2 separate regions of the Homo sapiens genome follow, and region 2 is linked to region 1. The links come from fine-mapping of genetic effects on gene expression. A gene starts in region 1. The other region holds a variant in brackets. All regions are shown on one strand. Distances are from middle to middle.

Region 1 (2,910 bases):
GTAAAAACCCCTAGAATCTCCTCTAAGGAGGAATCATTCCCTTCAGCCCAAAGTAATCTCAAAATCCAATTGTGCCTGACACTACCTGCCTTAGGCAATCCAAGAGGAGAGCTTCAAAAACTCAGAACTATTTCTCCAGGGTGTGCAGGGAAAGGTGGGAAGTAAGAGGGCTCTGGCTTCATCAGAGCAGAGAAGAGGTTAAAGACAGAGAACTGGCTTTTCCAGCAGGTAAGAAAGACACCTGGTCCCAGAGTGGCTGGGTTCATCCCTCCAACAATGAACACCTGAGGCTTCACTACAGAGCTCAAAGCATGTGAGACTGGGTGTCTGGCACCCAGGATTGAAACTGGCGTGTTGCCATTCATCACAGACTCCTGTTCAAGAAATCGAGTGTGGAAAGAGAACTGGAGGTCGGTGGCCTTCCATCAGCCTTTGGCTATGGCGTAGCCCATTCAGCGCAGGGCCCACCAGCACCCTCATCTCCAGGGATGTGCTGGGACTTTGGGTACCCTAGACACTTTTGCCTTCATAAACCCCTTCCTCCATTTACAAATAAGTAAATTTGTATATTACAACTGCATTGGTATAAAGATGACTATATCAATGTGATTTATCAAAATGGATTCTTTGACCAAAAGTTTTTAAAATTCAGATTATGAAATTGGAACATTTTCTGTGGGCCCCCAAAAGCAGCGGGGGCCGTCAGCACTGTGTCCGCTGGGCCTGCTCAGTGAGGCGCTAAGGGCAGAAGGAAGTGGGGAGAACGGGAGACCTTGCGGGTGTTCTTCCCGCACATCAAGGGGGTGTGCCAGGCCCGAAACGAGGTCTGTCCTAGCCCCACTAGGGCGAGCCTGAGCACCTGAAGCTCACCCCCTGCAGACGCAGCCCCCTGAGGCGGGGACAGGGGTGTCTAGGCCCTGGGGAGCCTCTGTGCCCCGCTGTCCCTCCCCACGCGGACTGCGCCCCGGGCGGAGGCGGGGCTGGCCGGGACTTACTTGAGTTCCACGCACCACGAGCCCGGCCATGGCGGCCAGGACGCTGCGGGCGCGCGGGACGGAGCGCGGGGGCGCGGCGGCAGCAGCGGGGAGCGCGGCAGGGGAGCGCGGCGGGCGCACAGTTCCGCACTGGGCAGTCAGCTGACCCGGCGGAAGCCGGAGGCGCGGGCTAGCCTCGGGGACCTCAGCTCCGCCGCTCGCCGCCGCCGCCCCTCGGCCCGGTCTCCGCGCAGGTGAGCCCTGGCCGCCCGCTGCAACAGGTGGCCCGCAGCGCCCCGCGCCCCGACGGCGGCCTGACCCCGACTGCCCGCGCCCCTCCCTCCCCCGGATGTCCCAATGCCCAAAACTCCATGCCCACAGCTTTATCGCGTTTGTCTGGGCCACGCCTGAGGTGGGGGTATTCCTATCAGGGGCGCCCTTTCTGAGCCGTTAGCCGGGCTGTAGCCAGCCGGGCCTTTCCTGCATTTCGCAAGCTGGGTTACATAATGGACCTCAACTGCAGCGAGGAGGGGCCTCTTGGCTGAACGCCCCTCCTCATCAAAGCTGGGGAGAGGGAAAGTTAGAAGGTTGAAGGACTCCTGGTGCGGCCCAGTTTCCATTTGTAGGAGGGGAGGGGGATTGGGGGGGTTGAATTTCCCTATAAATAAAACGCTGGCTTGGTGAAGACCACCCCACCCTTTCCCTGTGGCCTCTAAGAGTTGACAATAATAAACCCTGGGGAAGGATAATTGGCTGGTGACCCCAAATTTCAGGCTTCTCTTCTCCTGCTCCTCAGAGGGCAAGAGATTTGTGAGGCTTGAAGTTATCAGTGGGGTTATTCGCTGTTCCCCACCCACCCCATCCCCACCTGGAAGAGCTGGCCACGGGCCTCCTGTCTGGATGAAAGTAGGCCCAGTGGGCAGGTAACTCCCTAAACCCATGCCTGTTTTTCTCTGAAATTCTCTGGAAGGATCCAGATTTTCTCCTTGCCTATTCTTGCCTCCAAGTCCAGGATGCACAGAGCTACCAGATATCAACTGGTTGTCATCTTCCACTCTTGCTGCAGCTAAGAGCCAGCCCAGCCTTAACTGGCATCGTCTCTCAGACAGCCCCGGTCCTAACACATTGTTAGGTGGGCCCTTGTCAGCATTTTGATGAGCAGTGTTGATCTCGGAGGGTTGACCTTCCTGCCCCTCTCTCAGCTGGGAGGAGCAGGCTCAGAAGAGTAGAGCAGTAAGAATGCAGTCTTGACTGTGTTTACTTTGGGGGATTCCAGGAAATGCTGCAACAAAAGGTCCTGCAGGCCAAAAAAGAAAGCTTACCCTCCAGAGATAAGGGGATCAAAGGGAACCTTCCCAGGCCTGTTGCCCCAAGGACCAGCTCCCCCGCCTTCTCCCTCCTTCTCTGCTGGACGCGCCCTCTCTGGTCCATTGTGCACTTTTGTCTGCTTTTCCTGCCTGAAAAGGAGGAAGTGAGCCCGGACCCAGCCAGCACTCTGCCCTCCGCAGCTGCCTTTCAGCTCAGCTTTCCTAGAAGGGCTTTGACAGATGGAAGAGGACTTGTGGAAACAGGCCCAAGCTGACTCAAAGATGAGATTGGAGAACGGCTCTCCCTTCCCCCACCAGAAGGGGGTTACTGAAGGTCATCTCATCCATCCCCCTGCCTCCATACACAGCTGGGTCATCTGAGCATAGGCTGTTCTGCAGACACTACCAATGTCACCAAAGTGGGCTGGCATCTTTCCCCCTTTCCACACCCTCTCACTACTGTTGCCTCCTCCACATAGCCCCAGGGCAACCATTTTAAAAGCCCAATTAGATCCTACCTAAAATCTTTCAATGGCTCCTAATCAAGTAATAATTAATACAGTCCAGAATCTTTAGTATGTCCCTGAAGATCTCTTATAATCCCATCAATTCTTACCTCTTCAGCCACC
Region 2 (2,910 bases), 180 kb before region 1:
TCTTCACATAGTTACCATTTTTTGTGTGTGGTGGGAACACTTAAGATCTACTCTCTTAGCAAATTCCTAGTATACAGTGGTATATTATTAACTATAGTCACATGCTGTACATTTAGGTCTCCAGAACTTATTACATCCTACATAACTGAAACTTTGTACCCTTTGACCAACAACCTTCCCATTTCCCTGGCCCCCCATCCCCTGGTAACAACCATTCTAGTCTCTGCTTCTATGTGGTTGACTATTTTAGATTCCACATATAAGTGAGATCATGCAGTAGTCTTCTAAGTCTGGTTTATGTCACCATGTTCTCCAGGTTCATCCATGTTGCAAATGGCAGGACACCCTTCTTTTTTTAAGGTGGAATAATATTGCTTTGTGTATGTGTGTGTATATATATATATATATATACACACACTACAATTTTTGATCCAGTCATCCATCAATGGACACTTAGGTTGTTTCCCTCTCTTGGTTATCTGGGTATATATCTGATGGAAATAAAATCAGTATCTCAAAGAGATATCTGCACTCCCATGCTCATGGCAGCATTATTCACAATAGCTAGGATATGGACAATGGATTTTTAACCACTCCAGGCAACCACTTCATGTTTGGATACCTAACAGAAGCAACCAGAGAGCTGGTTAAAAATAGAAAATCTTGGGCTCCAAAAAAAAAAAAAAAAAAAAAAAAACCACTGAATCAAAATCTCCAGGAGTGGGGCCTAGGAATCACAATTTTTTAAAGTTCCTTGGGTGGTTCCAGTGCAGCCAGTCATTTGGAAATCACTAAGTCACCTCACTTGCTTGCACATGAGGAATGAAGACAGTGCTGTTGTTACAAAACCAAAACAAGGCAGTGATTCTCCCTTAAAAAGAAAAAGATGCTCATCTGTAATGCTTTAGCATTTGTTTACAGATAATTAAATGTGGAGGAAAAGAAGGTTAGGACCTGAGAAAATCATGTGTTAAAAACTAAAAGTGGAAGGGCCCACTATAAATTAGAGCACTACAAAATTATCACCTGTATCAATAGAAAAATATAGTTCAATATAAGAACATCCAAAGAAATACAGTATTACATGAAATGGCTTCCCATCTGTAGTAGCTTTAACATAACAGAATTAAGACAACAAATCTGCTGAGGGGAAAATATCATGTAGGTCAATTTTATTCATTCGAATCTAACAGACTAGAAATTTGAAGAAATTTTAACAAGCATTTACTTTCCTATCGTATGTCAAGAAAGGCCTTGTTCATAAATACAAGATAGGAAAGACTTTCAGAAGATAGTTAAAACTCAAGAGGACTGTTCTGAAATGTCTTGATCACTTTGGAAGTAACCATTTCTCTAACATTTTGTAATAAAATGCCAAGTATTTTTAACTAGTCATTAAAACTGTTCCGGGAATTTCTATTGTAGACTTTGATATCTAATTCAAGTGGCTGCATAAATTTGGAAGCTACAAAATCAATTTTCCATAAAATATCATTTGGGCTTCACTAATCCAAACTGGCCTCCTTCCTAATTAGGTTGAATTCATGGGATTTTA[T/C]TGTAATGCACTGCCAAATCAAATTGTTAAAACTGGGAACTTTGTGCTATTTTGGATTATCATAACATCCTTTCCCTCCATTAGCAGGGATGGCCAGAGGTTGCTAATACAATAAATGTTTAATGGATGGCAACACTGTCCCTTGCCCCCAGAAATAGAGATACAGACATAAAAATACCCTCAGATCTGTTTGTATCCATGCTTTCTGCCTTCTCTCTTGCTTGTGGCAAACAGTGAATTTTCCCAATATAAAGAGACATGCCAATCGACTTACTCAAGCCAAAGGTAAACAGAAAAGAAGTGAGAAGAAAGGGATGAAAAAACACTGCGGCAGCTCTGGGAGACATAGTCTTCTGTGCCAAGAGACCATCACCTCCTATAAATGTCCCCAGTCCTTTAACATTTGAAATAGAAAGGTGCAGTGGAAATGCAGGCTTCTGGAAGGGCACCAATAGAGCCCATGTAGCCCGGAATGGACTCTGCCCTTAACTAGAAACTGGGAGTCAGTGAGAAAATAGAACCTCGGTTCTAAAAATAGCCCACTTATTTTCATTTCTGGTTTCAATACCTTCACTGCACCTTTGTTTTAAAGGCATTACAGGAGTTCTGACATTTTCTTTCCATTTCTGAATCAACAGAGAAGAAATTCAGCTACATGGTAAGAGAGTTAATATTCTACCTTCTCGCACACTTAACACAGACATACCCATGCAAGAGCACATGTTAAGACTGGCCTCAGTTTGGTTGGGTTTAAGAGAAGGAGTTACCAGCAGTGAACTTTACTTATCTTACCATTAGAAAACAGGGTTGGCCAGGCGCAGTGGCTCATGCCTGTAATCCTAGCACTTTGGGAGGCTGAGGCGGGTGGATCACTTGAGCCCAGGAGTTCAAGACCAGCCTGGGCAATATGATGAAACCCCATCTCTGCAAAAAATACAAAAATTAGCTGAGCATGGTGGTGCACACCTGTAGTTACAGCTACTTGGGAGCCCAAGGTAGGAAGAGCATCTGAGTCCAGGAGGCAGAGGTTGCAGTGAGCCATGATTGCGCCACTGCACTCCAGCCTGAGTGACAGAGCAAGACCCCGTCTCAAAAAGAAAGAAAGAAAGGCTTATTTGGGAGGAGGTGAGACGGCAAGAGAGTACTCAGTTCCCAGCCGCTGCCATCACTCTTTCTCCTTCAACTGCTCACACAAAGAACTTGGCCATTCAAGCCAAAGAAATGTAGATTTCTGTCCCAGCTTCACCATGACCTTAGATAAGTTAATTTCTGCAACTCAGTTTCTTCATGTTTGAAATACTGATAATTATTTTCATTCCAATCACTCTTAACATTAGAGCAGCGGCAGGAGGGGT

The links.
Region 2: its variant is fine-mapped to the expression of LRMDA in whole blood (INTERVAL, PIP 0.96).

The regions. Positions count from the first base shown.
Region 1 is chr10:75,429,840-75,432,749 of GRCh38, reverse strand. LRMDA (leucine rich melanocyte differentiation associated) reads right to left here and starts at 1,126. Exons shown (of 7, transcript NM_001305581.2): 1 at 996-1,126. The coding sequence starts at 1,025. LOC107984293 (a long non-coding RNA gene) reads left to right here and starts at 1,140. Exons shown (of 2, transcript XR_001747703.2): 1 at 1,140-1,228; 2 at 2,440-2,910. RefSeq lists enhancers at 317-817, 818-1,318 and a silencer at 1,077-1,176.
Region 2 is chr10:75,605,612-75,608,521 of GRCh38, reverse strand. All of the region lies in intron 2 of LRMDA (leucine rich melanocyte differentiation associated), which reads right to left. Among named protein-coding and RNA genes, the nearest start is that of MIR606, 55 kb to the right of the region's middle. The variant T/C (reference allele first, on the strand shown) is at 1,556.